3 linked regions of the Homo sapiens genome follow. The protein of the gene in region 3 purifies or fractionates together with the protein of the main gene of each other region. This does not show direct contact. Each region holds a gene or a part of one and is shown on either strand. Other genes may lie near its edges.

Region 1 (12,468 bases), on a different chromosome or scaffold from region 3:
TATTTCTCATACAGAATTTGATTGATATGTGTCCCTTTTGCCCATTCTTTTGTGTAGGTTGGACGCACTTTTGGATATTTTCCAAAAGATTTAATCCAGGTAGTTCATGAATATACCAAAGAAGAGCTACAAGTTCCAACAGATGTAAGTTGTGGATTTCTGTCTTGTTCTCAGTTATAAGTTGGCTTATAAGTGACTACCTAGAAAAAAAGAAAAATTTCAAAAGAATTTAAATGAGATTTTATCATAATCTGATAGTTATCTAATATATGGAAATAGATGTTCTTATATAAGGCTATGTACTCTTTTTTTTTTTTGAGTCGGAGTCTCGCTCTGTCACCCAGGCTGGAGTGGAGTGGCGTGATCTCGGCTCACTGCACGCTCTGCTTCCTGGGTTCACGCCATTCTCCTGCCTCAGCCTCCCAAGTAGCTGGGACTATAGGCGCCCACCACCACGCCTGGCTAATTTTTTGTATTTTTAGTAGAGATGGGGTTTCATTGTGTTAGGATGGTCTCGATCTCCTGACCTCATGATCCGCCCGCCTCAGCCTCCCAAAGTGCTGGGATTACATGCGTGAGCCACTGCGCCCGGCCAAGGCCGTGTACTCTTATACAAGGCTTTTCTTTGCTGCTTTATATGTGAAAAATTAAGAGTTCAGTAGTTTTATATTTACTTATTAATGTTAGAAGGCAAAAAATTTCATTTCACAAGCAAAAGGAGAAATTTGAAAACTACTTATTGGATAGCTGTTAGACATTTTAAGGATATAGAAATCAGGTTAAATTAATTAAGCTCTAATTTTATACTGAGCCAGAAATGCAAACTTACAAAGGTTTTCTTATTATTGACTCTGTAGTGATTTAAGCGATTATAGTTATAGATTTGGAAAAGGGAACCAGAGAGTTTCAGGTGAGGTCCAGTCTCATATCTGTAAGGCGCTAACTACACATTCTGTAGAGCATTTATCTATAGTGCACAATGGCTTCGTGACTAGAAGGATTTTGTGTTCTAGAATCTGCATTCCATCTGATTATTATTTTTTTGAGACAGAGTCTCTCTCTGCCGCCCAGGCTGGAGTGCAGTGGTGCGATACCAGCTCACTGCAGCCTCCGCCTCCCAGGTTCAAGCAATTCTCCTGCCTCAGCCTCTGGAGTAGCTGGGATTACAGGCGCCTGCCACCACACCCAGCCAATTTTTTTGTGTTTTTAGTAGGAACGAGGTTTCACCGTGTTGGCCAGGCTGGTCTCAAACTCCTGACCTCAAGTGATCCATCTGCCTTGGCCTTCCAAAGTGCTAGGATTACAGGCTGCCTTTCATATATATATATAAAAAACACCATGCCCAGCCCCCCATCTGATTGTTTTGTGAGTTTTAGAATTTATAGTAATTGATGTCTGCTTTCATTCAAAAGTCTTTGAGTAGCTCTTTGGAGTTGCTGCAGAGCGTGCAAGCTGCTGGGCTAGGGCAGTTCTTAGAAGAGATTGGCAGAGTGAAGTCACAGAGCTATTGCTATGCTTAAAATTTCTCGACGCTCTCAGGGGTTATATAGTCAATCGTATTGCCTGTTTGGCTTCACTCCTGATGAAGAGACTGCCCGGGATTTGAGTGTGAGACAGCAATTCATTGGTCACAGAGACCTGACCTGTATACTAATTGTAGTTCCCACTGCATGATTCCCTTAATATTAAAAAAATTGGCTCAGAAGTGTGCATGATGGAAAGAGGGAAGTCATTCATCTCCAGTACACAGGACAGTTCTCACCAGAAGATTGTGAATGTTTAGTTAGGGGAAGAAAGTTATCTTTGTTGGTTTTTTAACTTTTCCATCATTTTATGGCTCCTTGTATGTCAATTTGCTTACTGGTGGAGGAAGGGAAAAATACAGATTTACTTGACAGTCCTGAAAGCAGATCTTAGTGACTGGCTAGAATCCTTATTTGGAGTTAGGTACCTACCTTACTGAATCTTGTTTTCAAGTTGTTCTTGTGGCAGTATGAAAATGGGGAGCCTCCTTTACACCATTCTTTGTTCTCTTACATTTTTATATCTCATGCACCTGTATCTCAGTAAGTTCCTTCTGAAGCTGATTTCTTTCCCAGTCCAAGGAAAATATGAGCCCCAAATCCATGTAGACTGAGAGCCTGACAGCCAGGTGATTCTGCCTGTTTCTGACTGGGTGAGCAGAGAAGTATGACATAGAGGGCACAATGTAGAGAAGCTGATGGTCTTTCAGCTCCTCCTGGATGGGTTATAAGGTGAATTCCCAGAACATCAGGCATAGATGATGGGAGTTGGGGAACCCAATAAATGACACCTTACTTTTCCCCACCTGTGCTCAAAACAAAATTGAGAGACCCAGGAGTTGGGCAAATAGGAGATCAAAATGACCCCATTATTTACTGATAAAGCTGTTTGGAGTATGCAGAAATAATGGGCTTTCTAACATTGCGGTCTAAACTAAGATGGACTTATCCAGTCACAGACAGAGCTATCCAATAGGGGTCTCCCCAGGTGGGACTGTCCCTGTAAAACGGACAGCATGGAGGAACAGAATATGTGTTTCCTCTCCAGCAGGTCCCAAACAGAAAACAGGATTGGGACTGAGCAAACTCACCAGCCACATGAATCATTCTTCCCCTGGGGAAGAGAGAATGAAGGGAAGCCAGGAGTATTACTCAGATGGGAAAGTGGGTTCCAGCCTCCTATCCACCCACTGCCCAAGAACAGTCAGTGCCCAGTGTTGACGCAAAAGCTCCTCTAGAGCCAAACGTGAATTCGAGATTATCTCAATCATTAACGTGGATAAGACTTTGCTCTGGTGACACTTGGCTATTGACAGACTAATGTTTTTCTTTTTCTTACAGGAGACGGATTTTGTTTGTTTTGATGGAGGAAGAGATGATTTTCATAATTATAATGTAGAAGAACTTTTAGGGTTTTTGGAACTGTACAATTCTGCAGCTACAGATTCTGAGAAAGCTGTAGAAAAAACTTTACAGGATATGGAAAAAAACCCTGAATTATCTAAGGAAAGGGAACCTGAACCTGAACCAGTAGAAGCCAACTCAGAGGAAAGTGATAGTGTATTCTCAGAAAACACTGAGGATCTTCAGGAACAGTTTACAACTCAGAAGCACCACTCCCATGCAAACAGCCAAGCAAATCATGCTCAGGGAGAGCAGGCTTCATTTGAATCTTTTGAAGAAATGCTGCAAGATAAACTAAAAGTGCCAGAAAGTGAAAACAACAAAACCAGCAATAGTTCTCAGGTCTCAAATGAACAGGATAAGATTGATGCCTATAAACTTTTGAAAAAAGAAATGACTCTAGACTTGAAAACCAAATTTGGCTCAACAGCTGATGCACTTGTATCTGATGATGAGACAACCAGACTCGTTACTTCATTAGAAGATGATTTTGATGAGGAATTGGATACTGAGTATTATGCAGTTGGAAAGGAAGATGAGGAGAACCAAGAAGACTTTGATGAGTTGCCATTACTTACCTTTACAGATGGGGAAGATATGAAAACTCCAGCAAAGTCTGGCGTTGAGAAATATCCAACAGATAAAGAGCAGAATTCAAATGAAGAGGACAAGGTTCAGCTAACTGTGCCCCCTGGCATCAAAAATGATGATAAAAATATACTAACAACCTGGGGGGACACTATCTTCTCTATTGTCACAGGAGGTGAAGAAACAAGAGATACGATGGATTTAGAGAGCTCTAGTTCAGAGGAAGAAAAAGAAGATGATGATGATGCATTAGTCCCAGATAGCAAACAGGGGAAACCACAGTCAGCAACAGATTATAGTGACCCTGACAATGTAGATGATGGTCTTTTTATTGTAGACATTCCTAAAACAAATAATGACAAAGAAGTAAACGCAGAACATCACATTAAAGGAAAAGGGAGGGGAGTTCAGGAATCCAAGAGGGGCCTGGTACAAGATAAGACAGAATTAGAGGATGAAAATCAAGAAGGCATGACTGTGCACAGTTCTGTTCACAGCAATAACCTCAACTCTATGCCAGCTGCTGAAAAGGGTAAAGACACATTAAAATCAGCTTATGATGATACAGAAAATGACCTAAAAGGAGCAGCTATTCATATCTCAAAAGGAATGCTCCACGAAGAAAAGCCTGGAGAGCAGATTTTGGAAGGTGGCTCAGAGAGTGAATCTGCACAGAAAGCTGCAGGGAATCAAATGAATGACAGAAAGATTCAACAGGAATCCCTGGGTAGTGCACCACTCATGGGAGATGACCACCCTAACGCATCCAGAGACAGTGTGGAGGGAGACGCTTTGGTAAATGGGGCCAAACTGCACACGCTTTCAGTGGAGCATCAACGTGAGGAATTGAAAGAGGAATTAGTTCTTAAAACTCAAAACCAACCTAGATTCTCCTCTCCAGATGAGATTGATTTGCCCAGAGAACTGGAAGACGAGGTTCCCATTCTGGGAAGAAATCTTCCCTGGCAACAAGAAAGAGATGTGGCTGCCACAGCCAGTAAGCAAATGAGTGAGAAGATAAGGCTCTCTGAGGGAGAAGCCAAAGAGGACTCCTTGGATGAAGAGTTTTTTCATCACAAGGCAATGCAGGGCACAGAGGTAGGACAGACAGACCAAACTGACAGCACAGGAGGACCAGCTTTCCTTTCTAAAGTAGAAGAGGATGATTATCCCTCTGAAGAACTACTAGAGGATGAAAACGCTATAAATGCAAAACGGTCTAAAGAAAAAAACCCTGGGAATCAGGGCAGGCAGTTTGATGTTAATCTGCAAGTCCCTGACAGAGCAGTTTTAGGGACCATTCATCCAGATCCAGAAATTGAAGAAAGCAAGCAAGAAACTAGTATGATTTTGGATAGCGAAAAAACAAGTGAGACTGCTGCCAAAGGGGTCAACACAGGAGGCAGGGAACCAAATACAATGGTGGAAAAAGAACGCCCTCTGGCAGATAAGAAAGCACAGAGACCATTTGAACGAAGTGACTTTTCTGACAGCATAAAAATTCAGACTCCAGAATTAGGTGAAGTGTTTCAGAATAAAGATTCTGATTATCTGAAGAACGACAACCCTGAGGAACATCTGAAGACCTCAGGGCTTGCAGGGGAGCCTGAGGGAGAACTCTCAAAAGAGGACCATGAGAACACAGAGAAGTACATGGGCACAGAAAGCCAGGGGTCTGCTGCTGCAGAACCTGAAGATGACTCGTTCCACTGGACTCCACATACAAGTGTAGAGCCAGGGCATAGTGACAAGAGGGAGGACTTACTTATCATAAGCAGCTTCTTTAAAGAACAACAGTCTTTGCAGCGGTTCCAGAAGTACTTTAATGTCCATGAGCTGGAAGCCTTGCTACAAGAAATGTCATCAAAACTGAAGTCAGCGCAGCAGGAGAGCCTGCCCTATAATATGGAAAAAGTCCTAGATAAGGTCTTCCGTGCTTCTGAGTCACAAATTCTGAGCATAGCAGAAAAAATGCTTGATACTCGTGTGGCTGAAAATAGAGATCTGGGAATGAACGAAAATAACATATTTGAAGAGGCTGCAGTGCTTGATGACATTCAAGACCTCATCTATTTTGTCAGGTACAAGCACTCCACAGCAGAGGAGACAGCCACACTGGTGATGGCACCACCTCTAGAGGAAGGCTTGGGTGGAGCAATGGAAGGTGAGATGCCTATGGCCTTGTAGAACAGGGCTGGAGAAGCAGGTGGGTGGGTCGCTGAGGTGCCTCCTATCTTGTGAAGCTCTGTTCAGTTTCCAATGTGCCTAAAGGAGAGGGACAACACAGGGAGGTCCACATGTTCCTTCCTGCCATCTTTCTTTTAGGCTGGAGCATGGAGAAGAATTTCTTGCCGTTTCCCTTAGAATAGTTGAGACTGGTTAGCATTTTCAAAAGGAAACTTTGTAAAAAGCTAAAGAGAAAGATATAAACCAGAAAGTAATATACAAAATACAAATGTCATGTAAAATTATGAAAGGGTTTTATTGAACACAATTTTTCAGTCGTCAGATAACTGCTCTGTAACCATGGATTGACTGGTATAACTTTTAGATCAATGCCTTGGCTAAATTCCTACGTTCTCCCCAATTTTATCTTTTGTGGATGGCTTGTTCTTCCTGTTTCTTGGGAGCACTTACTCCAGTTAAACCCTCCTGGGCCGTAAGGTTCTTGCATGCAGATTAATCAAGATTGGGACAGGGATGCCTTCGAATGCAGTGCTTGATGCGTGGAAGCCATTCAGTTGAATTAACCCCGAGCCAATATCCTGACATAAGCATTCTGATTCCTAGTTCCTTGTTCTATTCTCTGCATCCAGGCTTTTCTCTTTCTTTTCTTTTCTTTTCTTTCCCTTTGCCCACCTGCCCTTCCTTCCTTCCTTCCTCTTTCTTTTTTTCTTTTCTTTTTTTTTTTCTTAAGACAGGCTCTCACCCTGTCACCCAGGCTGGAGTACAGTGGCATGATCATAACTCATTGCAGCCTCCAACTCCTAGGCCCAAGCGAACCTCCCATCTCAGCCTCCTAAGTGGCTAGGACTACAGGCATGCATCACTGTGCCCAAATAATTTTTATTTATTGTAGAGACAGGGTCTTGGTATGTTGCCCAGGTTGATCTTGAACTCTTGGCCTCAAGTGACCCTCCTACTTTGGCCTCCCAAAGTACTGGGATTACAGGTGTGAGCTACCGCACCTGGTATATCCAGGCTTTTCAGACAGATGTATCTGAATTGAGAGTACCAAGGGGACAGGAAGCCACAGGAAAACGTATTACTCCAGAGTGCTAATTTTTCCTAAGAAATGGGGGAGGAGAACTTTTTTGCATTTAATTAAAACATATATTTTGGATAAGAAGGCAATATTCAGATGAATTTTCAGGGTAAAATATGAGGCTACAAGGAAATTCACCTTTGCTGTGGATCACATTGGACTGTCCCCTAAGCCTCTTAGGAGAGGAGATGGCTTCACTTTGTTTGACTCTTAGAGGTACTTTGAAAGTATTCGAAAGACATCTCAGCAAGCTGCCTTGGCGTGGAATGTCCCTGTCTGTACTAGTTCTGTGAGAAAGGCATGCTAGGGTATGCAAGAGTTCATGTTACTTCTCTGCAGAATAGATGTTTCACATTTCTGCTCTTGAGTGGAATTCTCATTTGCACATTTATTTGTGTGGGTGTAGGCTGATTTGCCAAGGAAAGATGTTACTGAAGTCCCTACCATAAATGTATTTATTTATGAAATACTCCTCTGTAGATTTTATTATGTAGATTAGTCATCCTTTAAATGGAATAAAAGAAACTGAAACTCTTATTTCCCTGCCCAGTTGTGCTCCATGGGATGCCCATGCATGGAGGTCAATGTTGAGGTGCCCTGGTGTGGTCAGTGGGATTAGCCTAACAGGTAGTGTCATCAAGCTGTGCTAGCCCAGTGTATTCTTCTCACCCTAGAGATGCAACCACTGCATGAAGATAATTTCTCACGAGAGAAGACAGCAGAACTTAATGTGCAGGTTCCTGAAGAACCCACCCACTTGGACCAACGTGTGATTGGGGACACTCATGCCTCAGAAGTGTCACAGAAGCCAAATACTGAGAAAGACCTGGACCCAGGTAAAGCCTGCTAATTTTTTTCTACAAAGTGGAGAAATCATAAAGAAGGCCTTCTAGGAGATTCATTGTCAAAGGCAGGAGCTAGAGACTTGTTAAATTCAAAGGAAAAAAGGATCCCAGAGCTAATTGAGAGAAAAGCAGGCGTCAAGACAGATGGAGATCAAAAATAGGAAAGACACCAGAGACTATAACTAACCTACAAACCAATGTTTGGCTGTCACTATCTTGTGTAAATTATTTCAATCTAAAATATTATTCTTAAAAGGCCTTATGCTCTAAAACAGTAGTTTTCAACCAGCCCAGCAGCATCAGAAACTCTGGGGGTGGAACCGGCAATCTGTGTTTAACAAGCCCTCCAGGAAAGACTGACCTGATGCAAATTACAGTTGGAGAACCACTGCTCTAAAACTCACAAATTCTGTTTTTCCTCTACTTTACCCCTCTCTTTCCAAATAAAATACAATGCAATGCAGTTCTTTTTTTTGATTTGCTATCTGGACATGGTAAGTAAAACTTCTTAAAATACAGTGAAGGGGTCCAAGTATGTTTATAGCATAAGCTCATAGGAGACAGTACAGAACACTGTAGTGTGTAATAGTCCAGGATAGACCGACACAAAGAGTATTTCACCACAGTGCACAGTAAACATCCAGTGAGAGATGAGAACGTTTACTTTCCAGGCACAGTGCCTAATATTTAGTGGATACTCAATAAGTATTTTTTAAAGAGAATTCTTATTCTAAAGCACAAAATGTCTATCTTTCCTCCCAATTCCAGGGCCAGTTACAACAGAAGACACTCCTATGGATGCTATTGATGCAAACAAGCAACCAGAGACAGCCGCCGAAGAGCCGGCAAGTGTCACACCTTTGGAAAACGCAATCCTTCTAATATATTCATTCATGTTTTATTTAACTAAGTCGGTAAGTTTAACATAGTTTTTTTTTAACTAAAATGTTGATTATTACAGTTTTTAAGTTGATTTTGAGCATGAGGTGAAGAACTTAAAATGTCTTTATGAACCTGACTCCTGATCCTTTGAAGAGAGACCCTGAAATGAGCCACAGGTGTGTGGCTTTAATGGGCTCTTAGTTCAGCACATGAGGAGGCTTTGCTGCATGCTGGAGCTGGGCACAAGCACACCTGTCAAACGTGGTTCTTCCTTTCAGGGACCTTTCAGTTTAGCCAGGAGAGAAAGACAGTCACTTGAAATGTAACATGATAATGGGCAGGAAGAGAAGTATTTACCTGATGGTAGAACAATCTGTGGCATAAATTGGTTCATCGTGGAGGGAGAGTGATAGGAAAGGCCAGAAATTCGCTGAGATATGCTTTAAGCAGATTCGAAAGAGATGGGAGCTTGACTTGGAGTTGTCAAATAGAAGGGCTAGGGGAAGGATGTGGGCAGGGGGGCGGGCAGCATGCAGTCAGGCAGAAGAAATAACACATTCAGAGAAATGGAGGCATGAAGAAAAGGTTATTTGGGGAAGCCAGGGAAGCGTGGGTAGTTGGTGTTTTTTCTTTTTCTTTTTTTTTTAAATTGAGACAGGGTCTTGCTCTGTTGCCCAGGCAGGAGTGCATTGGCGTGATCTCAGCTCACTGCAACCTCTGCCTCCTGGGCTCAGGCGATCCTCCTGCTTCAGTCTCCTGAGTAGCTGGGATCACAAGTGTGCACCACCATGCCTGGCTATTTTTTGTAGAGGTGGGGTTTTGTGATGTTGCCCAGGTTGGTCTCGAACTCCTGAGCCCATGGGAGCTGCCCACCTTGGCCTCCCAAAGTGCTGGGATTACAGGCGTGAGCCACCATTCCCGGCCAGTTGGTGTTGTTAAAGTGTGGAGTTAAAATTAGCTGGGCAGGGTGGTGCACACCTGTAATCCCATCTACTTGGGAGGCTGAGGCAGGAGAATAGCTTGAGCCCGGGAGGCAGAGGTTGCAATTAGCTGAGATCGTGCCACTGCATTCCAGCCTGAGCGACAGAGCAAGACCCTGCCTCAGAAAAAATAAAAATAAAAAAGTATGGAGTTAGGAGGGAGAAGGTCTGTTGGAGGGACTCAGGGAAAGTCAGAAAGGAAATTGTACACCATAGTGAGTGGTCAGACCATTGTTGGCAGAGATCCTTGGAAGATTTTAAGCAGGAAAGGGATTGTCAGGTCTGTTTCTTAGAAAGAGTCACTTATGGCAGAATATTTATTCAGATCTTTCTAAAGGGAGCCATGCTCCAAATGAGACATTTAATGTCTAGAAGCTTATCTAGGCTTTTTAGGACTTAGCTCCCCCTTGTGGTACTCGGTGGAATTGGACTTTTTTTCTTGGTAAATTAGAGGACTAAGCAAGCTCTTGAAGTTGGAGGCCAGGTTGCCCTTAGGGCTACAGAGAAAGTATGCTTCTCACCAAAGCCATTTCCTTTAGGTTCTGTTATTTCAAGACTCGAATAGGAAAGAGCGTTCTTGTTGTTTTTCTGTTAAAATCCATGGGTTTCAAGCCAAGATGATTTTATTTCAAATCCCAAAGCTATCGATTAGAAGTTTAGGGCAAATTACTAAACTTTGAACCTCAACTTTCTCATCTGAAAAATTTAGATAATACATACTCCAATTGTTGGTAAGAATTAAATGACATGATAATGTAAAATGTCTGGTGTAGCAACTGGCATTTTGTAAGATCTCATCCCTCACCTAATTCTCATTTGGATGGTCAGAGGGCATATAAAGACATTGAATACCTGAGGGTTTCAGGAGAAAGACCACCAGGATGGAAAACAAGTAGGAAAACCAAACCATTTTTCAGTATTATTCATGTTTGTTCTGGTGATAGCCACCTGGGTGAAGGTGTGTATTATCTTTGCAGTTGGAATAATGAAGTTTTCAGGGATTAAGACAGTCTCAGAATTCAGAATTTGGTTTTCAGAGTGAAATTATCACTTGAAAAATTTAACAGCCCCAGTTGTAGAAGGAATTCTTTATTCATTGTATTTCTAGATACGCACAGAGCCCTCTTCTAGGCCTGGGTTGGGGCATATAGGAGTGGTGTAGGATACGATCTGTGATCAGGGGATAACAGGGAATGACAGACATGAATGGCAAGATATAAGGGCGCAGTGTTATAAGATGCCGACTTGAGAGGGATTGTCAAAAGAGCATTTTGATGGCTAAATATGTACCAGAAATTGTGCTAGGAATACAAGATTCCAAGAGGTATAAAGTGTAATTCTGACTTTTGAAAGTCTTCAAAAAAAGTTTACCAAATACATGTGAAAATTGGAGAAAGTGGAGAATATAGGAAATAGTTTATGCAAAGTATCAAGTAGTTCATATAGATAATTGTTTCATAGGGTTTTGGAGTAATGGGGTGCTGACTTTATTGGGAAAACTATACCAGAGGTCAGACTCGTAGATCAATAATTGATGAATAGTTAGTGGAATCTTAGGGTTGGAAGAGACCTTAGAAGCTACTAGTCCAACTTCTCAGTAGTCACAGCAATTCCCTGTACTCTAACCCTGCCATTTTGGGACCTGTGCGTCACCGGTTCCTAGTGTAAGCCGCCTACCTTGCAAGGCTATACATTCCTTTGTTGCCTATTTCATTCTTATACTGACTCCAAATTTTCCTCCAGATGATTTCCTCTATAGAATCTAGTTTTCTTTTTACATAGTAATCCTTTAAATATTTGAAGTTATACTTTAATTTATTTTAGCATTTTATCCTGGAAAATTTCAAATATACAAAAGCAGAGAATCCGTGGGACCATCACCCAATAATTCCCAAAAGTGACTGTACCATTTTATACTTCCATCAGCAGTTAATGAAACTTCCATTTGACCACACCTTCCCTAACACTTGGTATTATCAGTCTTAAATTTTAGCCATTGTAGTGGGTATGCCTTTCTGGTTTTAATTGTAATTCCTGATGATTAATGATATTGAGCACTTTTTCACTGCTTATTGGCCATAGTTTTTTGTGTGTCAGTTCACTCTGACTAGCTGGAATTTAAATGTCTTGCAGCCCTGTGACAACTCTGGGAATTGTTTAGCTTACAGTTGTTCTTTTTTCCTTTAGTTATTCTTTGCCCATCCTCAAGGAATCTTACCCTACACAGGAGCTGTTTAGAATTCAGGCTGAGGCTGAAGGAGAGACCTCCTTGCATATTTCTGGAACTCTACTTGTTCCTAGTGTCCATCTTTTTTTTTTTTTTTTTTTTTTTTGAGATAGAGTCTTGCTCTGTTGCCCAGGCTAGAGTGCTGCGGTGCCATCTTGGCTCATTGCAACCTCCACCTCCCGGGTTCAAGCGATTCTCCTGCCTTAGCCTCCCAAGTAGCTGGGATTACAGGCACCCGCCACCACACCCGGCTAATTTTTGTATTTTTCAGTAGAGACAGGGTTTCATCATCTTGGCCAGGCTGGTCTCGAACTCCTGACCTCGTGATCCACCGGCCTCGGCCTTCCAAAGTGCTGGGATTACAGGTGTGAGCCACTGTGCCCAGCCCATAGTATCCATCTTTCTGGTACCTTTTCCTGCATATTTCAGATGCCTCAGTCTCCCCGAGCTTTAATCTCTGCCTCCTCTGCAAGATTGGTGTACTCTGCTTGGGTTCCCTATCCCTGCACTGAAGTCAAGAAAGTACCGCCAGGTAGAAAGCTGGGAGGTTGTAGAGCTCACCTATTTGTTTCTTTTCTCTCAGGGGTCACAATTGTGTGCTGCCTGTTGTTCTCTATATGAAAAACAGTTTTTAAATATCTTTTGTTTAGTTTGCTTGTTGCTTTCAGTGGGAGGGTGAGTCTCATACCAGTTACTGTCTATGGAGTTCTTTCTGTTATTATTGCAGTGCATTCATTGAAGAAACAGTTTTGTT
Region 2 (12,468 bases), on a different chromosome or scaffold from region 3:
TCCCAGGCTCAGGCCATCCTCCCACCTCAGCCTCCCAAGTAGCTGGGACTACAGGCATGTACCACCATGCCCAAATAATTTTTTGTATTTTTTTGTTGAGATGGGGTTTTGCCATGTTACCCAGGGAGGTCTCAAACTCCAAGGATCAAGCCACCCACCCTCCTTGGCCTCCCAAAGTGTTGGGATTACAGATGTGAGCCACCACACCTTGCAAATTTTTGTATTTTTTGTACAGCCGAGGGTCTCCCTATGTTGCCGAGGGTGATCTTGAACTCCTGGGCTCAAATGATCCACCCTCCTCAGCCTCCCAAAGTGTTGGGATTACAGACGTGAGCCACTGCTCTCAGCCCCTTACACTTTTTTGAAGTTCAGTTCTCCCATCTGTAAAAACGAGGTAATAATATTGCCTCAAATGACTTAATGGATGTGAAAGGGTTTAGTAAACTCTGTGCCTGGAAAGGTAGAAGCTACTCAAATATCTGTTGAGTGAGTGGCATTCATCCATGTGTACATTTCTCAGGCAACAATAATGTCACTTTCACCTAAGGCCAGTAAAATGTGGGTAAAGTCATATAATGATACAATGAAAGTTTCTGATCAGTATTTCCTAATTCAAGTGTGTTGAAATGTGGAGTTGGGCTGGAGAATTGTCAAATCATTGCGTATTTAATTACCTTGTGGTGATGTTTGCTTTAGGGAGTGGAAGGAACATGAGGAACGAACGACCTTCATCACGGAAGATGACATTCATTTCGATTCACTTTAGATTTCAGGGCTTGTTTAGATGCAGACTTTGCAGTTAACATTTTATTGCACTGACTGATTTAGTTTTCACCAGGTGGTCCTTGTGTTTGCTTCAGAAGGATCTAAGTGTATTAGGACAGGGTTTCTTCTGTTTTGATTGTGGGAGGAGGCGGGATAGACTTCTGTTTTCCTAGACCCACAACCAAAATTCCCCACTCCTCCAAATAACCGGGATTACCAGGCAGAGGGTGGAGCATTGAGGAGATGACAGCTGGACATGCCTGCTGTAGCTTTTTCTGAGTTTAATTCCATATAGCTTAGACACAGGCCATATGCCTACATTTGGAAGATGTTTTGGAGAAAATTCTGCTCTGATGGGTGGGGGGCAGGGTCTGCCAGGAAAATATTCTATTCTTTTGAAGACATGGGGTCTTGCTATGTTGCCTAGGCTGGTCTTGAACTCCTCGCCTCAAGTGATGCTCCTGCCTCAGCCTCCTGAGTAGCTAGGACTACAGGTGCAAACCACCACACCCAGCTCTGAGAGGATGCTATACTCTTCACTTCATTGGAATTGGTGAAATTAGATAAGAAACAGACTCTTCCTCTCTTCTCCCCTAGTTATAAACAGTTCTGTTAAGAGAGGGAAAATAACCATTTAGCCTATAGAAAATCACCTTTTCGAAAAGTTAAGAATTACTTATGTGATGGTAGTTTTTGAAAGTGGTTTTTATTCTGAGATCATGGCCTCTGTACTATGCAGGGCCTGGAGAAGTGGGATGAGAGCTACCAGGCTCAAAGCTCCTGTCCCGAACAAAGGGTTGCTTTCGTGGGAGCACGCCACCCTTTCCAAGGCTAGTTCCTCTCCCAGCATCTCACTTCAGCTCTCGTCCTGCTCTAGAAACGTGCCTTTGCTGGTCCAAGGAATCCTGGCCGTTTCTTTTCTTAATTGTTGGCATTCATCTGGGCTATGGTGGTTGTGGCGGGGGTGGCAGTGGAGAGTGTGTTGTTTTAAATCCATGAGTCATTTTAGGGTATTGGTACTCTTGAAGACTGACTTTCTCTTGCTCAGGTTTTCAGAGAGACCTTTTGCTAAGCAACAATAACCTAAGAATCTCCTTGACCAAAGATAAATGTAGCAAACTTTGCACATGGTGCAACATTTGATAATAGTATCAATTTACGTTTGTCTTTCCCTTGCAATTTCCCTCCTCCTCTAGCTTGCTCACGTTTCTGCCTTCTTCTTGCTGGCAAGAGTACAGACTATAATTCTCCAGTTCACTAACATCTGGAGCGACTGCACTGTTTGCAATTTCATTGATTGACTACATGTGTACAGTTCCTTTATTGCAAGTCACTTTTCTGTATAATCTTTTTTGAGACGAAGTCCTGCTCTGTCGCCCAGGCTGCAGTAGCGCAATCTTGGCTCACTGCAACTTCCGCCTCCCGGGTTCAAGCGATTCTCCTGCCTCAGCCTCCTGAGTAGCTGGGATTATAGGCGCCCGCCACCATGCCCAGCTAATTTTTTTGTATTTTTAGTAGAGATGGGGTTTCACTATGTTGGCCAGGCTTGTTTTGAACTCCTGACCTCAAGAGATCTGCCAGCCTTGGCCTCCCAAAGTGCTGGGATTACAGGTGTGAGCCACTGTGCCTGGCCATATAATCTATTTTTAAAATGTTTTTATATGAAAATAAACAGAGACAGAGTCTCACTGTGTTGCCCAGGCTGATCTCGAACTCCTGGGTTCAAGTGATCCTCCCACCCTGGCCTCCCAAAGTGCTGGGGTTACAGGCGTGAACCACCTCATGTGGCCTCGCTTTCCTATATAATTTAAACAATAGAACTATAGTGCCATTTGTAAGAGTTTCCCAGTTTATACTGCATGTGACACTCCCCATGTCGTATGTTCTCACAACAGAACAGAAACCGCAGGATGTCAGCACCGGAGGCAACCTTGGAGCATCCAGCCCACTTGGTTTTGCATTGCTGGCAGGAGATTTTATGCCTCAAAATATAGATGCTTTTTGGAAGGACAGCACATTAATTATTTTTCAGTCATTTTTACCTTATGCGAACAAGCTGATTAGTTCCTTTCCTAGGAGCTGGTTTTTATGGAGGGAAGATGGGGCCGGTAGAGGCAGATAGAGGGGGATGTAATACACAGGCACTGAGACAGCACCCCACTGACTTTCCCCTGTCCCTCCTCCAGCTGGCCTCCTCCTTTCCAGGGGCTGTGCCCAATCCAGAATCAGTTACTCACTGGTGCCCATCGACCATCATTTCCCCATGTGGCCACCAAAGAAATGAACACCACCTTTCTGGTTGGCATGATCATCAATTTCTCAGCCAAAACGGCATGCATCCTTGGCTCTGGGAAACAGTACATCTCCCAGGAAAGTGAGCTTACAGCACGGTACCCCACTTCCTGGTTACCAGACTATTGTTCCCGTTTTCCCCAAGAACAGTCATCATTCACAGGTTGTTTGGCAGGGCCCAGGAACAGAGTCACTCTGGTTGCTACAGCCAACAGACCAAACACGGCTTCCAGGCAGGAAGGTCAGAGCTGCTCTGCAGGATGCACATGCAGGTTGGAAGCAGACAGGGCTGGCCGAGCACAGATATGCTGGCTGTGTCCTACACACAGGTGCCTACACACACATCCTTCAGATCCGGGCTGCACTCTATCAGCCAACCCACGGACTCTGTTTTTTCTAATTTGCACAGATTCTTTGTCAACCTGCCATGCCCTGAGACTGCTGAACTTCATCCAACAGAGAGGGTACCTTTTGCAAATCTGCAAAAATCAACTTTGTGTGCTAGGGTGGCCTGACAGGGCTAGGCCTTGGGGTCTTGGGGACCAGCATTCCACCTCTCCTCTCATACAGTGATTCTGGATTCCAGCCCAGCAAAAGTCAGCCAACCTTGGGGCCTTCCTTTCTTTCATCCTTTCTTTTTTTTCCTTTTCTATCCTTCTGTGCCTCCCTTCCTACCCCCTTCCTTCCTTCTTCTCATTTGCCTTTTTTTTTTTCAGTTCTTTGATGATCCTGAGAAGCTACTAAATATAGCAAAAGGGAGATAACACAGAACAAAATTAGAAGTCTATTTATAAAAATGAGCCTCTTCCATCCCTTCCGCCAATGTCATCTCTCACCCGGGTCTCGCCAGAGCACTCATGGACCTCCCTTTGGTGAGGCCCAAAGTCCATCCCAGCCACGCCCTGCGGTCCCGAGTCTGAGTCCATTGTTCTGGCTTTCACTCTGCTCTGCATCCCGTCACTGGCCCCAGACCTCGACGCCCACCTCTTCAGCGAAGGCGAAACAAGGACTCATTTTTCCTCCCTCTCTTCGCTCTTTCTTGTTTTCAGACTGCACTGTTTTTCTGCTGGCCGGATGACTCATTTCTTTGTCATCTCTTACCCCACTTGGCCTTTTCAGCTGCTCGAATCGCCTCTGTGTGATGCGGACAGAGCTATCGCCCTGCTGGGGTGAGATTCACTTGCATTGAATCAGCTCAAGGCGCAGGAAGGTCCAGGGAAGCCAAGGAAGAGAAGAGACAAGTCTCCAACTCTCTCAGGAGCAAAGACAAAAATATGCTCCTGCTCTCTTATCTCTTATTCAGACCGTTCAGTTGCAAAAGGGTTGAACATGATGCAGCGGGTGGTATGTGTGGACCAGCCCTAGGTCGTGCTTCTCCTCCATCTGGTCCCCCCACCCCTAGTTATCCAGAAAGGGGGATGTTCCCAGGCAATGCCAACATGTCCATACTGCACTCTTCACATTGCAGTTTCCCGGCATCTGGGATTGCATTCCTTTTGGAAGGACTTTGAGTTCTTGAAATAAAGAAGTAACTTGGTGGGCATCTGGAAAAAACACCCAAACTGTATCCCAGGCTGGGGTGCAGGAGCCTATCGAGAGGGCTGGGTGGTGTGGACAGCGTGATGAAGAAGGTCAAGTTCCTTGTACTCACTCGTTTGCTGTTTCATTCACAATTCCTGTGAGGTGGGAGCTCTCACCATCCTTGGGTCTTGCTTAAGAGTAAGGAGTGGGGCAACCTAGAGATACATGAACATCAAGGAGAAATGGGGAGGGAGTTTCACATGAGCTATTTTTACAAGATTAAGTAATGGGATAAAATTTAAAAGGGGAATTTAAGAGGAATTTTGGGCAGTTTTGAGAAACAGGAAATTTGAGGAAAGCTGAGAAAGAGAAGATCTGGAGTAAGTCTCTGTGATGAGAAGATTCCACCCCGCACTCCTGTTCTGGGTGGCCTTGGCTCCTGACTCCCTTTCTTCTGAAACTGCCTGGAGCCAGGGAGTAGCACAGCTGCTTCCTCCCGGGGAGAAAGGGACACCCAAAGAGCGCACTCCAGGGAGACCTTGGGCACTGCGGGCTCAAAGGCTGGAGATGGCACTTCTGTTCCCTCCTGATGGGACAGGTGCAGGGAGGCTGAGAGGATGCCACGCTGGCGAGCCTCCCTCTGAGCTGTGTTTTCTCATTGGAATTGCTGTACCCGGAGCCTCCTGCAGGTTTCCCTCGCCCTCTCCCTAAGCTCCTCTGCCTGACACAGGAGCCCGGGGAGAATCTGTCAGGCATGAAATGTAGCGAGGCAAGGAGGGTGATCAGCACCTCCCACGGGGGAGTTCGTTTCGAAGTAACAATCAAAGATCCAGAGCCGGACCCAGGCAGGGAGGCAAGGCCTGGAAGCCCCTGTGCCTCCAGGCCCCTAGGACGCTCGGGGGAGGGGGAGGGGGAGGGTGGGACCTGAAGTTGTTGTGACCGAAGGGAAATGAGTCAGGGAAAGAAATGCCATGCTTTAATTTTTGTGGATGAAGGAGGGAACAGGCCGCCAGACCACAAAATAACACCCGGCCGACTAACCTACTTTTAGCTGCCGAGGGCAGGATCACAGAGGAGAGGCAGATGGAAACTGGGGCTCTGGGGTCCAGGAAGATCTGAGTCTTCCGACCAAACATCATTTGCCTCCCCTCCTTCCTGCAAATATGCACATTGCCGGATCTGCTGCAGTCTATGAAAAAGGAGACAGATGTTCTGGCAGAGCGGTGGGGGGGGTGGGCGTGGAGGTTGGGTTGGGGGGCCTCTGCTTTGTGGGGAGAACCTCAGGCAGGGGAGTAGGCTCCATCCTGCGTGGAGGAACCTGAGCAGTCTAAGGCAGGCTGGCTCTATGATGTGCTGGCAATAAAATCCCAATGGCTTCCGCTGCAGAAGTCCAAGAGGACATGACTGCGGCTCCATCTAGTCAAGCCCAGGGCAGGAATTCCCTTCCAGGAAACCAAGCCAGAGCGCTGTGGTCTCTGGGCTGCCAAGATGTCTCAGAAATGGTCTAGCCCTTCAGCCCACAGAAATCTCTGGGCAAAATTATCTCCCAGCATTGACAGACGAATGGATAAACAAAATGTGTTCTATCCCACAGTGGAGTATTATTCAGCTTTAAAAAGGAAGGAAAAATGCTGGGCGCGGTGGCTCACGCCTGATCCCAGCACTTTGGGAGGCTGAGGAAGGAGGATCATTTGTGCCCAGGAGTTCGAGACTAGCCTGGACAACATAGAGAAACCTTGTCTCTACACACACACACACACACACACACACACACACACACACACACTCTCTCTCTCTCTCTCTCTCTCTCTCAGCCAGGCACAGTGGCACATGCCTGAAGTCCCAGCTCTGGGAAGCTGAGGCAGGAGGATCTCTTGAGCCTGGTGGGTCAAGGCTGCAGTGAACCATGTTCATGCCACTGCACTCCAGTCTGGATGACAGAGCGAGACCTAGTCTCAAAAAAAAAAAAAAAAAAAAGAAAGAAGAAAGAAGAAAGGAAAAAGAAAAAAAGGCAGCGGGGGCGCGGTGGCTCACGCCTGTAATCCCACCACTTTGGGAGGCCAAGGCGAGCGGATCACGAGGTCAGGAGATCGAGACCATCCTGGCTAACACGGTGAAACCCCGTCTCTACTAAAAATACAAAAATTAGCCGGGCGTGGTGGCAGGCGCCTGTAGTCCCAGCTACTCAGGAGGCTGAGACATGAGAATGGCATGAACCCGGGAGGCGGAGCTTGTAGTGAGCCGAGATCACACCACTGCACTCCAGCCTGGGCGACAGAGCGAGACTCCATCTTAAAAGAAAAAAAAAAAAAGGACATGCTACAGCATGGATGCACCTTGAAGACATTTGCAAAGTGAAACAAACCAGTCGCAAAAGAAGAAACACTGTCTCATTCCACTTCTAGGATGTATGTAGAGCAGTCAGGTTCATACAGACAGAAAGTAGCAGCGTGGCTGCTGGGGAAAAGGGGAATGGGGAGTTATTCTTTAATGGCTACAGAGTTTCAGTTAGGGGTGATGGAGAAGTTCTGGAGATGGGCGGTGGTGACGGCCGGCCGCACAGCAATATGACGTGCTTAATGCCACTGAACTGTGCACTGAACATCGTTAAGGTGGTAAATTTTGTGTTATATATATTTTGCAACAATAAAAAATATGTAGTTTCTAGAATCCTCTTCTAGATGCATGTCTGGCGTTTCTGCCGCGGGGCTGGCACTGGAGGAAGCCAGACAGGACAACATTGCGGCTTATCCTCCTCTGTTGCCATCATGGACCTCTCGCACCCCGTGATCAAGCTGTTTTTTCTCTCCTTCCAGAATTTAAGGGACGCTGTGAAGCAATCATGGATGCAATGAAGAGAGGGCTCTGCTGTGTGCTGCTGCTGTGTGGAGCAGTCTTCGTTTCGCCCAGCCAGGTTGGTGTGCAGGATCCCTGTGTCCCGCCCCTCAAGGCTGTGATGCTTCCGGAGGCTCCAGGGGTCTGTGTCCATCTGGGCCACGGAGGTTGGAATGCTGTCAGGGAGCAGAGAGGCACAGGGACGAGGGGCTGGCATTGCTGTGGAGCACACAGCACACACTCCCTTCTGTACAGCAAACTCTGTATTTGGGGGCCCAGTGTGTAGCTGGGCCCTAGGCACTTATTTTGACCTGAGTAAGCGGAATTAACATGCCACTCCCTGCCTGTGACTGCCTTTTTTTGCAGCTGTTTTTAAAGAATGTATTCAAATTAATCCATAAAGTACAGTTGTCCCTCATATCTATGGGGTATTTGTTCCAGGACCCCCAAGGATACCAAAATCCAGGGATACTCAAGTTCCTCATATAGAATGGTGTAGAGTTTGCATATCCTATGCACACCCTCCTGTATACTTTAAATCATCTCTAAATTACTTATAATACCTAGTACAATGTTAATGCTATGTAAATGGTTGTTATAAGGTATTTTTTAATTTGTGTTATTTTTATTGTTGTATTATTTATTTATATATTTTTTGGAAACAGGGTCTCACTCTGTCACCCAGGCTGGAGTGCAATGGCACAATCATAGCTCACTGCAGCACCAAACTCCTAGGCTTAAGCCTTGGCCTCCCAAAACTCTGGGGTTACAGGTGTGAGCCACAAGCCCAGCTTATATTATTATTTTTTATTTTTCTGTTTTGGTTGAATCCACAGATATGGAACCTGCAGATATACAAAGTGGACTGTATTTATAAAAGACAATGCAGGACAGGGCACAGTGACTCACACCTGTAATCTCAGCACTTTGGGAGGCCGAGGTGGGAGGATCGCTTGAGCCCAGGAGTTGGAGACCAGTCTGGGCAATATAGTGAGATGCTGTCTCTACAAAAAATTTAAAAATTAGCCGGGTGTACTAGTATGCACCTGTGGTCCCAGCTACTCAGGAGGCTGAGGCGGGAGGATCGCTTAAGTTCAGGAGGTTGGGACTTCAGTGAGATATGATTACGCCAATGCACTCCAGCCTGGGTGACAAACTGAGATCCTGTCTCAAAAAAAAAAAAAAAAAAAGAAAAAGGCAATGCAAGTGCCATGAGCCACAGCAGAGGCAAACTGCCCTCATGGTGCCTACTCTCTAGCTGAGATGGAAGCGCTACACACACTCTCTGAAAATGCCTAGCAATAAAGGGCCTCACGGAAGTCCAAACTAACCACACCTCTCCCACAGGACCCTACAGCGGGGAGAGCCAGGTGACTGCGTGGAGTAGACAGCCAGCTGCAACTCCATTGCCCAATATGGTGGCCACTTACCTTGTGCAACTGTTTAAATTTAAAATAATTAAAGTTAAAAATTGTTTCTCAGTCCCACTGGCCACATTCAAAGCACTCGGTGGCCCTGTGTGGCTTCTGTCGTGGACAGCACAGACAGAAAACATTTCCACCAAGCAGAAAGCTCTTCTGGACAGAGCCAGTCAGGAAGGAGAGGAAGAATTGGACTAGAAGGCAGGAGATGGACTTTCACTTGGGCCAGTTACCCGAGGGGGTCTCTGAGCAGAGGTATCTGGCCGGCAGGTTCACATGGGCTTCTGGGTTGGCCGCCTTTACTCTTAGTACACCTGGCATGTGCTGATCCTTCCTCCACCTCTGGTTTCTTCGCAGGAAATCCATGCCCGATTCAGAAGAGGAGCCAGATCTTACCAAGGTCGGGTGAAGCTGAGGGGTGCATGGGGTCATCAGGGAGGGAGGCAGGGCGGGGTGCAGGGTGCATCACCCACCCACCACCTGCCTTCTTCCACCCACCACCTGCCTACGGTGTGACAGTGCCATTGCAGCATGATTCTACAGAGATGCCTGTGTCGGCACCATTCTCCCATCAGCTGCGGCCACTGGGCGGGTTCTGATTCTGAGGGGAGCAGAAACAGGTGTTCCCCCCCAAGGAGCCAGGCTGTCAGGGATCACAACCTAGCGGGGGCTGGGGGGGGCGGCCACTGGCCCAAGGTCCTGGTTATACAGATCAAAAGGCAGAGCCCAGGAGAGAGCAAGTGGCTTGCCCAGGGTCACACAGCCGCCAGCAGCACGGCCAGGGCAGTCACAGCCGAGGCCAGGCCCATGCTCTGGGTCTCATCCTAGGCTGTGATCCCACCACAGTGCACCGGCAGCTTTGGTAACAACATCCCTGTGTATCCATTTCCCTCTGTTGATCCAACCGGGATGTCCCAACTGGGATGTCCCACCCAGGCAACCCCTCGACATGGTGGGGTCTCTAAGTCCACATCTAGAGTTGACTCTAGAAGGCTGAGGAATGCGAGGCCCAGCTTCAGGTCCAAAACTACCAACTTAGGCCCTCGATTTCCCTCCTTCACGACCCAGTTCCTTCGAGTCTGGAAGACTCTGCAATACCCTTTGTGAAGGTGTTAAAAAGGGTGACTCACTCCCCAGAGCGAGTCACACCTGGACTCTTAATGCCTTCGTTGTTGGATGGCATCCTGCTTCCTACCAGGTTATCCTGGCCTCAGTGACCTCAGAAGCAGCAAGGGTCTGACTTACAGTGGGCACGTGCTACTTCTTTAATTAATTGAAAGTAAAGTTGTTGTTTTTTAAGTTGGCATTCTGGCTTGAAAACAGAAAGATGGCATGAAAATATTAATGGGAGTACTTCAACTATTTTCATTATGCCAAAAATACTTGGAGAAGTAGCACATTTTCTGCAAAGTCTAAAATGTCAATTTTCTTTGGGGCCAAAAATGCATCATTTCTGTGTGGTAATACTTATGTGGATAAAAAACTCTGGTAGACAGTTATGCATATATATATTTTTTGGTGAATTACAATGAGAAAAAGTCCAGGTGCAATGGCTCACATCTGTAACTCCAGCACTTTAGGAGGCGGATCCAGGAGGATGGCTTTAGCCCAGGAGTTCAAGACCAGCATGGGCAACATAGTGAGACACCTCTGCCTCCCCCACCCCACCCCGCCTCTACAAAAAAATTTAAAAATTAGCTGGGTGTGGTGGTGTGCACCTGTAGTCCCAGCTACTTGGGAGGTTGACGCAGGAGGACTGCTTGAGCCTGGGAGGCAGAGGTTGCAGTGAGCCAAGACAGCACCATTGGACTCCAGCCTGGGTGACAGAGACCCTCGAAAAAAAAAAAGAAAAAGAAAAGAAAAGAAAAAATTAGGCTGGGCACGGTGGCTCATGCCTGTAACCCCAGCACTTTGGGAGACCGAGGTGGGTGGATCACTTGAGATCAGGAGTTCGAGACCAGCCTGTCCAATATGGTGAAACCCCGTCCCTACCAAAAATACAAAAATTAGCCGGGCATGGTATCGGGCACCTGTAATCCCAGCTACTCGGGAGGCTGAGGCAGGAGAATCACTTGAACCCAGGAGGTGGAGGTTGCAGTGAGCCGAGATTGTGCCACTTCACTCCAGCCTGGGCGACAGAGTGAGACTTTGTTTCAAAAATAATAATAATAAATAAATAATAAATAAATAAATCATATGAGAAGATACTCAATGGCACTCAGAAAAGAAATGCAAATTTATTTTATTTTATTTTGAGATGGAGTCTTGCTCTGTCGCCCAGGCTGGAGTGCAGTGGTACAATCTCGGCTCACTGCAACCCCCACTTCCTGGGTTCAAGCAATACTCCTGCCTCAGCCTCCTGAGTAGCTGGGATTACAGGCACCTGCCACCATGCCTGGCTCATTTTTGTATTTTTAGTAGAGATAGGGTTTCACCATGTTGGCCAGGCTGGTCTCGAACTCCTGAGCTCAAGTGATTCACCCACCTCGGCCACCCAAAGTGCTGGGATTACCAGCATCAGTCACCGTGTTTGGCCAGTATTCATTATCTTGTTGTCTTCCAGTTGTGTCTCTTCAATAAGGGAGTATGCAATGGAGTCTATAGAAAGCAAGTGAGGGAGTTTTCTCAGTAGGTGCAAGGGTAGTGAGGCATTTCATTTTGAGTCATACTCTGATGAGGCTGGCCTGTCTTTTCTCATAGTGATCTGCAGAGATGAAAAAACGCAGATGATATACCAGCAACATCAGTCATGGCTGCGCCCTGTGCTCAGAAGCAACCGGGTGGAATATTGCTGGTGCAACAGTGGCAGGGCACAGTGCCACTCAGTGCCTGTCAAAAGTATGTACTGAGGCTGGGAGGTGGTGCATGCCTGTGATCCCAGCACTTTAGGAGGCCAAGGTGGGAGGGTCGCTGGAGCCCGGGAGTTCAAGACCAATCTGGGCAAACATAGCAAGTCCCCTGTCTCTACAAAAAATAAAAAAATTAGCCAGACCTGGTATGTAGTCCCAACTACTTGGGAGGTTGAGGCAGAAGGATCACTTGAGCCCAGGAGTTGGAGGCTGCAGTAATCTACGATTGTGCCACTGCATTTCAACCTCAGTGACAGGGCAAGCCCTCACCTCTAAAACAAAACAAAACAACACAAACAAAAACAAAAACACAGAAAAGCCCAGTACAAATCGACTTCAAACTGAGACTTCGAGTTCAGGGGTCCAGTCATGAACCCTGTCTTTCATGGTCCCCGGAAAGTTCAAATCTTCAAAAGGAGCCTCCAGGCCTGTTCGGCCTTAGGCGGAGGTGAAGGTACAAGCAGAAAAGGGAGCAAGACCAAGTGACCTTGGGCAAATGCCCGCTTGCCTCAGTTTCCTCATCTATAAAGAGGTGGGAATAACAGTACACACTTCATGGTTTGCTGTGAGGATTAAATTAGCTAATTTTTGTAGACTGTACAACAGCGCCTGGCACATAGAGCACATTCTTAATATTTTAACTCACATCATCCTTGGAGCTGCTTTGAAAATACAGGGGACCCTTGAACAACACTTGTCTGACCTGCAGGGTCCACTTATGTATGGATTTTTTTCAACCAAAGGCAGGATGAAAACAGTATTTGTAGGATGCAGAACTGGTATAC
Region 3 (3,309 bases):
GCCAAAGGACAATCAGGTAAATGGAATTGTTACTGCTCATTTTGTCAGTAGTTAAAATTCAATAGGTATGAGAAATTTGACAGTACTGGTTAATCAGTATACTCGCTGTGGATTTCATTTAACTGTTTTCATTATGTCTCCTACTAGCACCAATAATGTGGAACTGAATATATTAAGATCTGGAGAATGTGGTACAGAACGAGACATCAAAATTGCATCAGTTTTTTTGGTGCTTTGATTCATAACATTCTATTAATTTAATAAAATGGAGAATTTCAATGTATTTGTTATAATAAATTTAGCAGAATTATAAGGTTTCACTTTCCCATGATGCAAATGGGAAAAGGGGACACTGATTTGACAGAGAGAAACAACTACTGCTTATAAAGTTCAGGAATGTAGAGCAGTCAATTGCAGTCTTAGTCCTAGTTAGTACTAAGTTATCAAAACTGTTCATCAAAATTACTTTTGGAAGTTTTTTAACAGAACATGACATTTCCTAAAATCTTTGAAATATTTATTAAAATTATACTCTCAAGGACAGATATATAGAAACAGGATAAACAGCAAATTACTGACAGTTATGAATAACTACATGTATCTCCATTTATATCAAAAACAAGATGGATACTTTTGTGAAAGTTCTCAGTTTAACAACTTATCAAATTAATCCTTTAAGCTAGTTGTATGGCAAAGAAAAATCTCCCTCCATCTGTAGTTGTAGGGAAAAGGGACATCTTCATCATCATTTTGTTAATTACTAAAACTTGCATTTTTAAGAACAAGTCCAGGAATTTCACTAGTTAGCCTTACAAGCTAACTGTAGAGCTCACTTTTACTGCAGAAATGGAGATAGGTCTATAAAGGATTTTACTTAATAGAGGTTAAATAAGGAGCACATAAAGTTTTTCTTTATAACCTCTTACACATTTAAAAAATCATTTCTATTATTTGACTTCCTGAGCTTGAATATCTTAGTCTGGAGATGAGTCAGTTTTGCCATACAATTAGTGGATATATGAGAAATCTTTGAATTGAAATGAAACAGGCTCTTCAGCTGGAGTGGAAGTTTTACAATGAAGATAGAATGAATTAGATTAAGTCAGTAACCTGTTCTCAGTTGTTACAGCATATATATGTGAGAACGTGTGGTTGAGTGTGTCTGTGTAGGAACAATTTTTAAGACTCGACACTTGGCCGGGCGTGGTGGCTCATGCCTGTAATCCCAGCACTTTGGGAGGCCGAGGCGGGCAGATCACAAGGTCAGGAGATCAAGACCATCCTGACTAACACAGTGAAACCCCATCTCTACTTAAAATACAAAAAATTAGCCGGTCGTGGTGGCAGGTGCCTGTAGTCCCAGCTACTCGGGAGGCTGAGGCAGGAGAATGGCACGAACCCGGGAGGTGGAGGTTGCAGTGAGCTGAGATCGCACCACTGCACTCCAGCCTGGGTGACAGAGCAAGACTCTGTCTCAAAACAAAAACAAAAACAAAAACAAAAACTCGACACATATATAGTGAAGACTTCTACAATGTTAAGATTTCCCCCGCTCGGTTGGAAACCCTGAATTTGTGTGTATGTATTTGTGTAAGGTAAGTTACATTTTTTATTGGTCTGCGTTTTTCTGTCATGCCTGTGTACTTGGGAAATCTGAAACTGAGTGTCTTAGGAACTTCTTAAAGCAAATGTGAGGGAACATTAAAAAGTATATTTAAAATATAGAATAGGTCCATTTTCTACCTTAAAGAGTAGTATATTAAATACAATTATTATGCTGTTGTTGCTTTGCAGTGTATGTGGTGGGAAGAAGGCAGGAGTTTTTTATCTGCATGCTATATGAATCCTTCAATAATAATGTACCTTTTTATTACTGGGTTTGGCCATATTGATTTCAGTGAGTATTGTGCTCTCACAGACTTATTTTTCCAGATTTCATCTCTTAAAAGTGGGAAATTGGACTGGATGCTACTTTATTCCTCTTTCTACTATTTTTCCACAAACAAATCTGACTAATTGAACACAAACAAGGTGACTTAAGAATGTCAGATAGAGTTAGTCCTCTGTCTTTGGCCCTCTAGGGCCTAGAATTGCCTGTCCCTTCATAAGTGTCAATTAGTACTCTTGGAATGAATACAGGAATGAATTTTATTTTATTAATATGCAGTCTAAATACTGACTTTTCATCAGTCCAGGTTATGGAATGATGAAAAGTCAGTATTTAGACTGCATATTAATATTATTACCTATTCACATTACTCTGAATTATATTAAACAACTAATCAATAAATGAATTTTAGGTTTTTTTAAACATTAGATAGCAGACAGACAGAAATCCAATTAGGCATTTAGTTAACATAGTTCACACTGTAAATCAGCTCTATTCAGGATTCTCTGAATATAGTCTTTTCTGTTTCTGTGACAGAAAATAACTGCCTAAGGAAGATCAGGGATATTTACGATTTTCCTTTTCACCCTGGGACAAAGTTCATGCTTATATTCTGTTTAACCCCCATGGGTAGCTGTAGTGCATGCTGTTTACCTGGTCCCCATCAGATGTTTTAGATGGAAGGAAGAGTAAAAAGGGCTTGGAGACTAGACTCAGGAAAGGTAGGCTTCTGACTCTGCCATTGCCACACTGGAAGACCTTGGACAAGTATTTTGTTCCCACTGGTATATAAGGTATGACTTATCCACTAGATGCAGAAGACACAGTGCCCAAGGCTGACAGTACTGTAAGGGCCCATGAAGGTGTTTTGCTTATTGCCATATGCTAGACATATAACTTTGAAGCTAGATATGCAACTTTGAAAGACGAATATATTCATCTTTCTACCAATGCAGCCATAGAACATATATATCTTCATGAAGGAAGGAGGAGTCTACAAGGTTAAACGTGCCTAGGGCCCATGAAAGTAAGAATATGGACCTGTTTCTGGGTCCCTCTTTCTTTCCTTTGTAAAATGAAGGTATTGAACTAGATGATCTGTGATTCAGCCAATGCCTCTGCCAAGCGATTTGATGCACCATGGAAGCAGATGCTGTGATCAGGACTGGTTAGAGCTATTTTCTTCTGATGTCAGTCAGCAAGAAATGACTCCGTAATAGATTAAAATAAAACACTTATTTTGCACCAGAGAGAAGGAAAGAGAGAGAAGCACATGACTCAAGGAGAATGTTTACATGTGTTCCTCCCAAAGGCTTTATCTTGACATAGTGTTCTCATCTGCAACTTTTTAAAAATGAAAATATGTGAGCAACAGAGAAAAGATATTCTACCCAGCTAGTCTTTAGCCAAGTAACTAAGGT

Evidence for each region.
Region 1: the proteins of SERPINA10 (region 3) and MIA3 purify together in Homo sapiens (co-immunoprecipitation; 3 studies listed by BioGRID and IntAct, with this or other methods). This does not show direct contact.
Region 2: the proteins of SERPINA10 (region 3) and PLAT purify together in Homo sapiens (affinity purification with mass spectrometry; 2 studies listed by BioGRID and IntAct, with this or other methods). This does not show direct contact.

What each region holds. Positions count from the first base shown.
Region 1 is NC_000001.11:222,624,711-222,637,178, forward strand, and holds part of MIA3 (transport and Golgi organization protein 1 homolog isoform 1 precursor), read left to right. Parts: intron 1-57; coding exon 58-144; intron 145-2,864; coding exon 2,865-5,679; intron 5,680-7,454; coding exon 7,455-7,616; intron 7,617-8,393; coding exon 8,394-8,539; intron 8,540-12,468.
Region 2 is NC_000008.11:42,188,138-42,200,605, reverse strand, and holds part of PLAT (tissue-type plasminogen activator isoform 1 preproprotein), read left to right. Parts: intron 1-7,394; 5' UTR 7,395-7,420; coding exon 7,421-7,492; intron 7,493-9,191; coding exon 9,192-9,234; intron 9,235-11,534; coding exon 11,535-11,672; intron 11,673-12,468. UniProt on the Homo sapiens protein: Converts the abundant, but inactive, zymogen plasminogen to plasmin by hydrolyzing a single Arg-Val bond in plasminogen.
Region 3 is NC_000014.9:94,279,960-94,283,268, forward strand, and holds the end of SERPINA10 (protein Z-dependent protease inhibitor precursor), read right to left. Parts: 3' UTR 501-3,309; downstream 1-500. UniProt on the Homo sapiens protein: Inhibits activity of the coagulation protease factor Xa in the presence of PROZ, calcium and phospholipids. Also inhibits factor XIa in the absence of cofactors.